3 linked regions of the Homo sapiens genome follow. The protein of the gene in region 3 interacts with the protein of the main gene of each other region in a pairwise test. Each region holds a gene or a part of one and is shown on either strand. Other genes may lie near its edges. The genes, in order: HSD17B13, SH3GL1 and SCAMP5.

Region 1 (3,651 bases), on a different chromosome or scaffold from region 3:
GGGAGCCAATTCACATATGTGAAGAGCTGGTAAAGGTAAGGGGGACACATCTCTTTTTTTTCTTCTTTCTTCTAGAATCCAGATCTGCCCTAGATTCTACACTAATATTGAGGCACTGGAAGATTAATCATAAAAATTTCTATACAAAGGCAGTTGAAGTTGATATTTCCATCTCCCACAAAACTAACCAATTATATGAGGTCTGTATAGCTGCATTTCTCAGTTCCAGCACCCCATGGATCTAGAACACTTGCCTCAGAGTCTCGTCCAAAAGTGTCCTCGATCCTATATACATCCAAGTAATTACTTCTGATGTCCTTTCCATTCTAAAATTCCACAAAATGAGGACACATTACAAAATCATGGTGTGGAGGGAAAAAAATGAAGTCACAAGTGACAGCATTGAAAAGATGTACACTGACAACCCTTAACAAACCTCCACAAACATTTGTTGAGCTCCTGGTACATGCCAAGCTTTGTGTCAGATACTGGTGGACAAGACAGACCAAGTAGCTTACATTCTGGTGTGTTGTGTCCACTTGAATTCTGTGTCCTTGTGTCAGAGACTCTGTGGCTCTTCTACTCAAACAAATTTAATGATTCTTGATTAAGGCAAAGATCTGGCCAGTTTCCTGTCCAGAAGTATGTGAACTCCGTTATAAGTTTCATGTATCTTAAGAGAAGGTGCACAAATCAGAAATGTTTCTGACTCACACTCACCCAAAAATGTCCTAGGATGTTGACCTCAAATGTCTTGGTAATCTCTTCATCCTTGGTGCTGAGAAGATCGGCTGGATATACTGTCCCAGCATTATTCACCACGATTGTTACATCACCCACTTCTTTCTTCACCTTTTGAAATTGAAAGAACACTTTCACTGGGTGTATTATTCAAACTCAAAGTTTTGGGACCAATATAATCCAAAGATGAGAGTCTTTCTTCTATTGTATGAGGTCTCTCAGAGTTCAGGCAAGACAGACTGTTGAGCTCAAATCGTGGAGGCCAAGGGAACACTGTCATAAAGGTGGGATAAACTGTTCTTTTAACATCTAAATTTCAGTACCCAGCACATCATGTTTTGCAAGTTTATCAGTAAAGTGAAATTAACATTTATGTTGATAAATTCCTATATAAATTCTGACCAAATATTTTTAAAGTGTTCATTTTTTAAAAATGTGTTTTTCTTTAAACTTTTTTTTTTTTTTTTTTTTTTTTTTTTAGAGATAGGGTCTCACTATGTTGCCTGGGCTGGTCTTGAACTCTTGGTCTCATGTGATCCTTCCACCTTGGCCTCACAAAGTGCTGGGATTACATGTGTGAACCACCGCACCTGGTCTAAAGTGCTGGTTGAGAAATCCTGGTTTCATAACCTAATAACTACATGACCTGGGTCTGGCTTAACCTCTCTGAGTCATAATTTGCTTATCTGTAAAATGAAGTTTACAGAGTTATTGTAGGGATTGAATTAAAAAATGTAAAGTTTGTTAGAGTGCTTAGTTCATTGTGATTATTTGGTATTTACTCTTTTAAAATAATTGTGATAATAATTATTAATATTACATTTTCTACAGAAGACTACATTAACACCAAAATAAAATCTCACAAGGGAAATAATTAAAGAGAAGCTGGAATTACTGCAAAGTTAATAGGACTAAAACAAAACTAGGAAGTGATCCATATTCCCTGATGATAAATCTTTTGTCAGTCACTCTGTGCCACTGCTCACACTTCTGATCAGAATGAAATTGATTAATAATATGAACAATAATAATGGGCAGAGCTGAGTGGATTACATACAAGAAAAAAAGTATATATCCTTCCTTGGTGACATAACTACTTCAGTTAGCAGCTAAAATCCAATTTAAATCAGGCAGTCATAAAGACCTTTCTCATTTTCCACGTCAGCGTCCTAGGAAACAAAATAATCTGAAGAAATTTGTGAACCTGCAGTCTCACCTGATTTAGAGAGCGATAGATCTCTTCTCTGTTGCTGCAGTCTACCACATACGCATGCGCAGTGACGCCTAGTTTTCGGCACTCAGCTGCAGTTTCCTCCACACCGCGCTGTAATTAGGAAGAAACAAATTCCGAAAAAAGTGGAGGAGAAGACATTGGAGAAGAAAAATTTTTAGACAATTAACATTCGGCTAGGCGCGGTGGCTCACGCCTGTAATCCCAGCACTTTGGTTGGCCGAGGAGGGCGGATCACGAGGTCAGGAGTTCAAGACCAGCCTGGCCAACATGGTGAAACCCCGTCTCTACTAAAAATACAAAAATTAGCCAGGCCTGATGGTGTGGGCCTGTAATCCCAGCTACTTGGGAGGCTGAGGCAGGATAATTGCTTGAACCTGGGAGGAGGAAGTTGCAGTGAGTGGAGATAGTGCCACTGGACTCCAGCCTGGGCAACAGAGTGAGACTCTGTCTCAAAAAAAAAAAAAAAAAAAATTAACATTCATGTCCAAAATGAACAATTAACATTCATTTTGGACATGAAGATTAGTTAACCTTTTAAAAATTGGCCTCCTGGGTCAGGTGTGGTGGCTCACGCCTGTAATCCCAGCACTTTAGGAGGCCGAGGAGGGTGGATCACTTGAGGTCAGGAGTTTGAGACCAGTCTGGCCAAAATGGTGAAACCCCATCTCTACTAAAAATACAAAAAATTAGCTGGGCGTGGTGGTGGGAGCCTGTAATCCCAGCTACTCGGGAAGTTTAGACAGGAGAATCACTTGAACCCGGGAGGCGGAGGTTGCAGTGAGCTGAAATCATTCCATTGCACTCCAACCTGGGTGACAGAGTGGGACTTCGTCTCAAAATAAAATAAAAATTGGCCTCCTTATTTGTTAGAAAATTTCTTGAGAGTGATTGCCTAGTTGCAATGAGATTACCCCTGGCTTTTCTGCCAGGGAATGCTCATATTAAAACCAAAACAAACAAAACAAAACAAAATCCCTTCATGCTTTTTTCAGCTTTTCCTCTTGGTTGGAGGCTGTACAGTAGGCAGTTTCTCTAAAGCAGGCTACTTTCAAACCTTGAAGAACATTCTTGAAAAACATTGCTCTTCGTGGTGTCATGGAAGATGAATATGGAGAAGAAAGAAAAACTCAACCATTAATTTATCATACATTTGTTGAGCACCAACTATGTAATAGGCAGTAAAGTGCTAAGTAGTAATTCTAAACTAGTGGTAATGGTAAACTGTATGCCTCTGCCCATCATATTTTTCTTGATGATTCTGACTCATCCTCCTAGGAGGGAAGGGAAAGAAGTCTCCTTAAAGAAGAAGGACTTTCATAGGGAGACCATGCTGCTACTCTAGGAGATATAACATTACATTCTTCAGGTGTTTGGGAGTGAGATGGGCAAGGCCACTGGATGGATTTCTCATTTATGTACCAAACTTGCCCATAACCATAGGACATGGAGACAGAGCAATTTACTTTCAGCCTAAATTCAAAGACCTCTTTCCTAAGATAAAATTGCTCTAATGTTTCTTGACTCACATTCTGGAAAATTATAATTCTTTTCAAGTTTTCACCTCAGGTGACTTTTATAGAAAATATTATAAGGTTTTAAAAATTATACTTTTCCGTCTCACAATCTGTAAACTCTTCTCTGTGACAAAGAGGCAAGGATACCTGAAAAGCCCTATT
Region 2 (3,651 bases), on a different chromosome or scaffold from region 3:
TCTTGGAGGAATTCCTGGGCCACTTTGTTCCCTGCTATAGACAGGTCTCTGGAAGCCACCACCCCCACTCCCAGCGATCAGGGCCTGTGCCCATATTGTCCTGAGCTGACACCCTCTTTAGAGGAATGAACCAGGCCTCTTGTGCCGGCCACCAGGACTTTGTCTCTCTCAAGGGAAGCAGGATGACCTGCGTTCAGATCTGTGAATGGCGCCTTGAAGCCTGGAAAGGACAGTGTGGTGTTAGCTGGGCTTAGGATTGCCTATTTCCACATCCCGAGGCCTAGTCCCAAAGCACAATGGCCACAGCCCACCCTCGGGGCTGTCGTCTTGGCCTCCTGGTCAATTCTGTCCTGAGTCGTGCTCTTAGAAGTCACCCTGGCTGCGTTCCATGCTCTTCTGTGATCATTGCCATGGTTCCCTCTGACATCTCAGCTGTTATCTGGACGTATCCGACTATTTGTGTCTCTTTTTTTGTTTTTAGTCTAATAACAACTCTTTCACCCTCTGCTGTGCCTGTTGGAAAGTGACATCTCTCGGGATCTCTCATTACGTAGTGATACAAACATTTATTGAGTTCTCACCATGTGAGCAGGCAGTATGCTTTATACCAGTAGGTCTCAGCTGGTCTTGCTTATCCGGTCTAAGGGTAAAAAACATTCCCCCTTTTACACAAAAGGATTAGGGGACATTTATCTTCCTGTAAAACAGGGCCAGTTCTGTCCTCCAGGGGACATTGACAATGTCTGGGACCTTTTTGGTTGTCACAGCTTGGTGCGGTGCTGCTGGCTACTAGTAGGTAGACGATATTGCTGGACATCCTCCGGTGCCCAGGGCAGCATCTCCCCACTGCCCCCAAGAATTACCTGGCCCCAAATGTCAATAGTACCAAAATTTGAGAAACCCTGCTTGAAGATTTGGAAAAAAAATGAGGATAATTATACCAAAACAAAGGAACAAAAAAATCCCCACTGAGCCATTCTTACGATTTTCCTAGTTTGGCCAGGTGTGGTGGCTCACGCCTTTAATCCCAGCAGTTTGGGAAGCACTCCAGCCTGGTGGATGAGAGCGAGACTTCGTCTCAAAAAAAAAAAAAGTAAAATATAAAATAAAACAAAGATTTTCCTAGTTTGCTAAACACAGATAGCCACATGTGTAGTTTGTTTTTGTTTGTTTGTTTGTTTTTGAGACGGAGCTTCTCTCTTGTTGCCCAGGCTGGAGTACAATGGCACGATCTCGGCTCACTGCAACCTCCGCCTCCTCTGTTCAAGCAATTCTCCTGCCTCAGCCTCCCGAGTAGCTGCGATTACAGGCACCCACCACCATGCCCCGCTAATTTTTTTGTATTTTTAGTAGAGACGGGGTTTCACCATGTTGGCCAGGCTGGTCTCGAACTCTTGACCTCGGGTGATCTACCTGCCTCAGTCTCCCAAAGTGCTGAGATTACAGGCATGAGCCATGGCACCCCGCCCCACAGGTAGATATTTACATAAAACTCAGCATCCAGACCCTAAGGTCGAGCCCACCCTCAAGTCTTTAGGAAAATTCGAGTGTCTTTCAGTATCTGGGCTTCTTTTTTAGGGGGGAGCTAGATCCACCATAAACATTTTATGTGTATATGTACACCGTTTATCATATACATATTGTGACAACTGTATATATATATATATATTTTGAGACAGAGTCTTGCTCTGTCACCCAGGCTGGAGTGCAGTGGCGCAATCTTGGCTTACTGAGACCAACCTCCGCCTCCCGGGTTCAAGCGATTCTCTTGCCTCAGCCTCCTGAGTAGCTGGGATTACAGGTGCGCCACCACACCCGGCTAATTTTTTTTGTATTTTTAGTAGAGACAGGGTTTCACCATGTTGGTCAGGCTGGTGTTGAACTCCTGACCTCATGATCTGCCCGCCTCAGCCTCCCAAAGTGCTGGGATTACAGGTGTGAGCCACCGTGCCTGGCCTAAACAACTTGTATGTATACATACACTGTTTATCATATATACGTATTGTGGCAACCATATGTATGAATAAGCCTTCAAAAGGTGAGCACCTGTATTTCCTGGTAATTGACAATGTCAGTTTTGTGTGATGTAGTCTCTATGGAATTTCCCGTACATATGATGACAGAAACAAAGACTGAAACATGGTTCACAGAGAAACACAGAACATACATGACTCTCAGAATAACCATGTCTGCTGCTGTGTAGGGAACTCTTTGAGAGGAAACACTTTCACTGCTGGCCTCAAATGCCACTATCCACTTAGGTTCTTCAGTGTGAACCTTTAATTCAAAAGTACCTTCCAGCTGATCACGAGGAACCTTTATCGCTTGCACCTGAGGAGGTCAGGGCTGCAGGGAGCCCTGATTGTAGCACTGCACTCCAGCCTGGGAGACAGAGCCAGACCCTGTCTCCAAAAAAAAACACCATTTACAGTGACTTAGAAAAGGGACAGTTTCCAGTGCTACACACAATGGTTCCATACACAGCTTAAAGGTTTCCAGTTCTTTGCTGGAACTTGATTTAATAGTTGAGAGCCACAGGCATCGGGGCTCCTGAAGGAGGGGCACGCGCCCATCAGCGCTGTCAGCCGGGGATGGCGCAGACCCCTTCCTTGGCTTGGCAATGTCGGAGACAGTTGTTATCGCAACTTTGGGAGAGAATGCTCATGGCATCGAGGGGATAGGGGCCAGGGATGGTTGCCAAGCATCCTACAATGCATAGGACAGCTTCCCCCCGCTGCAAAGGAAGAATTCTCCAGCCCTACGTCAGTAGAGTTGAGCTTAAGAAACCCTGCTTTAAACCAGGCTCTAGACTTCCAAGGGTTCTTACGGTGTCCTTTCTAAATTGATCAACAGAGGCCGGGAGGATGCGGGAGAGAGTGCTGGAAAAGATAAACTTACTTTCTAACAGGCGAGGCTGTGTTGTTGGTTCTGAGTTTCTGATCTCTCGTTGGTGATAATGGTAAGAACCTTAGTGGGTTCCAGGCTAGTTCATCTCCCTGCAAAACCTTTTGGGAACTTGTTCAAAATTGGTTTGGGCTTGAGTGGGCAGTTTGTGAGTTTTTACTTCTTGTCATGAACTGGCCATAGACTGGTTGAGGGCCTGAGCTGGGGAAAGTTGAATCATCTGGAAGAAAGCAGTAAAAAGCCGTCCGTCATGGTCCCATCTCCCTGGTTCCCTCCTTTCTGCCTGTGTGACACCCACTCCCTCAAGAGCCTCCTGGCATCCGTGCGCAGCTAGAACTGGGGGACTAAGGAGGGTGAAAGAATGCCGCTAGCGAGAGCTGCTCTCAGAAGTTCCCTTGGTGTGCTGGGGGTTTGGGTGACATTATTTCCAGGCTTAAGCTGCTAACTGGCTTCCTGATAAATCTTGTGGCCGGGCTGTGTGAGATTGAGAGTGTAACTAGGGGTAGAGCTGGCAGCTGCCTGGAATGCTGGCTTTTTTTTTTTTTTTTTTTTGCCTGAAAGGAGGGAGAGGGTTTGAACATTTGAATGGAAAGATTGCTTCAGACTGAGCTAGGAGGGACATTCACAAGCGTCACCTCCCATAGCTTTGAAATCTGCCTGATGCTCCTTAGGCCCTGGGTTTGTGCCTAGGAGAAAAGGAGAGGCCAGGGGGGTTGGGGGAGGACTGTCTGCCGGGGGATCCTGGGC
Region 3 (3,651 bases):
GGGAAGATTGCACAGGGAATGTGACATCAGGGAACAGATGAGGGAGGAGGAGGCTGAAGGAGGCGAGGCCTGGAGGGATCAAAAGAGCAAGGGAATATCCCTGGCCTGTACCCACCCTCCCACCCACCACCAAGAGTGCTAAGTACTGTTACTTCCCAGGAAGACTGAAAGTAGAAACAGTTCCAGCTCATAACCCTAGGAAGGGGCCAGTCTTTCTGCTATGCCTCCCCTGGCCCCGTGAGGGGTCCCTGGGCCAGGGTCAGAGGGGCCAGAGGCAAGAGGGGCAGGTGGAGGGTGGGGGTGGGGGCTGGTTTAGCTCTAAACACACATCTAGCACCACAAGAGACCTCCACTGCACACTATTTCACGAGGGGACACAGACACAGCTACTACCGCACGGGACAGCTCCACGTGCAGCCCACAGCTGAGTGCCAAGAGCAGAATCTGAAAGGTGGGGGCTGGGGTACAGACATATACATATATATATATATATAACTCTGGTCCTTTGTACAAAGTAGGGAAGGAGAAAAGGGAAGGGGGAACCCTGCTTGGTAACCACAAATGACGATGTGGCTTGAGCCCCCTGTCCCAATGGCCCCAGCTCTGCCACCTGGTAGGCGTGGCTGGTTCACATCTCATTGGAGTACGTGTAATTGGGGGTGGCGGAATACTGAGTCTGAGGCTGATTCATGGCACCCTGGGCTGCCCCCATGGCTGCGTTCTGGGCTGCCTGCTGCACATGTGGATTCTTCCAGGCCCCTGTGGTCCACTCCTCCTGAGCTTTGCTGAAACTCCCCCCACTTCCCCGGTAAAATTTATGAACCTGTAGGAAAAAGAGCGTAAAGAAGGGTTAATCAAAGAGAAAAGGCAGCCCATCCAGGAAATAGATGGGACCCATCTGTAAAAAAAAAACAGTGCTCCCTCCCCATGAATGCCTCTGTAGGAGAGTCCTGCAGGCCATTCCAGAGTGAGTCCCTTGGAAGACCTCGGGATCCTCTTGCAACTTGGAGGAGGGCTTGTTTCAGAACATGGCCCCTTCCCAAAGCCACCTTCTCACCCTTGAGGGGACCACGTACCATGCTGAGGGCGATGAAGGAAAAGACGGCCATCACTGTGAACATGACAGTGGGAATTAGCATCACCACCGCCGAGCCAATGTTCGTTCCGAAGAAGGAGATGGTAGCAATCCAGCCGCTGCAGGAAGAGGCCAGTGTGGGGCTGCGGGCAGGATAAGAGGTGCCCAGGAGCCCCCCGCTAGAGGAAGGGACCGTCTCATTGCCACAGGGAGGAAACATATCACTGGATGCAGAGGGACCATCTTACTGATACCCAAAGAACCTGTGCCAGTGGCTCAAGAAGACCCCATCCCTGTGGCTCAGAGGTGCTCTTCAGATACAACACTTTCTTCCCCCAGGTTTTCCTATAATCCCTGACACCCCTCAGCCCCCAAGAAACCACTGCCAGGTTCTCCTTCCCTCTGATGCTATGGTTGTACTACTACACTATCCCGAATCCTCTCACTCTCCCAACAACCCATCACTCAGGCCCCATAGGCTAGACAGCTTAGCACACAAAGGTAAGCAAAAGATACACCCACAACGCCACCCCTGCCAGCCCCAGGCCACACCCCTGCCTCTTACCAGACGCCCCAGCCTGGGATGCCCACGGCCTGGATGATGCTGATGACCAACTGAGCCATGAAGGTAAAGAAGAATGCCATGAAACTGAAGGAGCTGTCAGTCCTGCGGCAGAGGAGGTGGCTCCCGTCACCTGGGCAGAGGGCCAGGGCTTCCCTGCCTTCAAGGCCCCCAAGCCCTTCCAAGTTTAAGTGCATAATGGACAGAAGACATTTAAAGGCCTTAATTGAGAGGTCAGAAGGGGTTAGTTCTACCCATACATCTTTGCAAGTTTCCACGTGGTAGACCTGTGTGTTGCAACATTACACAGGGAGGGATTTCCCATGAACAGACCACCCACTGGTACATGGATGGACGGCCTCATTGGCATAGAAATAGATGGCTCCACTGAGGCAGGAATAAATAGTCTCATTGTCAAGGGGATGGACAATGACACCAAGACAGCTAGCTCCACTGGTACATGGATGGATGGTCTCATAGGCTCAGAGATAGAAAGTCTCATTGGAACTAGAATGGACACCCTATTGGCACCAAAACAGTAGCTAATTGGCACTTAGATGGATGGCCTGATTGGCACAAAGAGATTTAAGGCCCCATTAGCATTGAGATGGATATTCTACTGGCACCAAGACAGATAGCCTTGGTACATTGATGAATAGTCACATTGGCACAAAGATTGAAAATGCCATTTGGCACTAGGTAGACACCCACTGGCACCAAGACAGCAAGCCCCACTGATATGTGGATGGGTGTTCCCTTTGGCACACAGTTGGATGACCTCATTGCACATGAACAGTGTCAATGGTACATGGCTGGCTGGTCCCATTGGCACATGGATAGATGGTGTCCTTGGCACCAAGTCGGCTAGCCCCACAGGTACTAGGATGGGCAGCTCCACCAAGACAGGCAGCCCCACAGGCAAAATTTAACATGCAGCTGCCTGAGGAAGGGGATGACAGAAGAAAAAATAGGCCTGGTCTGTCTATATTTCCCCCACCCAAGGGTAGAGTGAGGAGGAAAGAAACTAACTCTCAGCCCTCTCACCTCAACTTGGCACCCCCAGAAAGCCCAGGCCCTACCTAGCAATCTGAGCCAAAGGTGAGCAAGGGAAAGTGAGTTTGGGGGAGGGTAAAAAAAAAAAAAAAGAAGTGAGAAAAGATATGGAGAAGAGACAGGGGAGATGGGCAGAGACGGCTAGGCACTGCGGATAGCACCAACCACTTACTTGAAGGCCTTGTAAATGGGCCGAAACCAGCAGACGTAGGAGCAGGGTGTGAAGAGGATGAGCCAGAGAAAGGCGAGGCCAAAGTTGGTGGCTCCCCCGCCTCCGATCAGCCACGCGAGACAGCCCACCAGGTTCACGGCCAGCGTGACGCTGTTCACTGCAGGCCCAGGAGCACATGCACACATAGAGACAGACACCCAGGCCCATAGAGAGACACATGAGCACCCGGACATGGGCACACACACACCAGTAACGCAACAGAGACCCACAATCAAGCCAGGCCAACAGCGCAGACAAGCACAGAGAGATGCAGACACATTCACAGATTCACACCCACACAAAAGACCCACAACCCGTACCAACAAATACATACAGAGACACAGGAGACACACATACACACGCAGAGGAGTAAAGACTGTAAGAACGCAAGCTGGGAGCTCGAACCAACCCCCACCCCTCAACCCCAGCACCCACTCCTGAGAAATCTGGAGAGCACAGCCTCCAGAACCCAGAGCTTCTGCCCAGCAAGCCCCTTTGAAGGGCCCCAAAGCCTCAGGGTGGTAGAAATGCTCTTGTCCTTGTCAAGAATGGCTTCAGCCCCTGACCCTCCCAGACTCACAGCAATCACCAAGCCCAAGACATGGGAAACCGACCTTACACTTTCTCTTTCGAGATATGGGCATGGAAAGGGAAAAATAAAAGGCCTTGTGGAAACATCTCTTCTAGCCATTGTGCCATCTACCTTGCACTTAAATGGGGCAGGCATTGGCGGCTGGAATCTCAGTCTTT

The links.
Region 1: the proteins of SCAMP5 (region 3) and HSD17B13 interact in binary tests that used the Homo sapiens proteins (3 or more experiments, as listed by UniProt).
Region 2: the proteins of SCAMP5 (region 3) and SH3GL1 interact in binary tests that used the Homo sapiens proteins (3 or more experiments, as listed by UniProt).

Annotation. Positions count from the first base shown.
Region 1 is NC_000004.12:87,316,372-87,320,022, forward strand, and holds part of HSD17B13 (17-beta-hydroxysteroid dehydrogenase 13 isoform A precursor), read right to left. Parts: intron 2,066-3,651; coding exon 1,958-2,065; intron 853-1,957; coding exon 721-852; intron 1-720. UniProt on the Homo sapiens protein: Plays a pivotal role in hepatic lipid metabolism. In vitro, it catalyzes the oxidation of a variety of lipid substrates, including 17beta-estradiol, retinol, retinal, and leukotriene B4.
Region 2 is NC_000019.10:4,393,932-4,397,582, reverse strand, and holds part of SH3GL1 (endophilin-A2), read left to right. Parts: intron 1-3,651. UniProt on the Homo sapiens protein: Implicated in endocytosis. May recruit other proteins to membranes with high curvature.
Region 3 is NC_000015.10:75,015,961-75,019,611, reverse strand, and holds part of SCAMP5 (secretory carrier-associated membrane protein 5), read right to left. Parts: intron 3,020-3,651; coding exon 2,863-3,019; intron 1,743-2,862; coding exon 1,641-1,742; intron 1,195-1,640; coding exon 1,077-1,194; intron 824-1,076; coding exon 629-823; 3' UTR 1-628. UniProt on the Homo sapiens protein: Required for the calcium-dependent exocytosis of signal sequence-containing cytokines such as CCL5. Probably acts in cooperation with the SNARE machinery.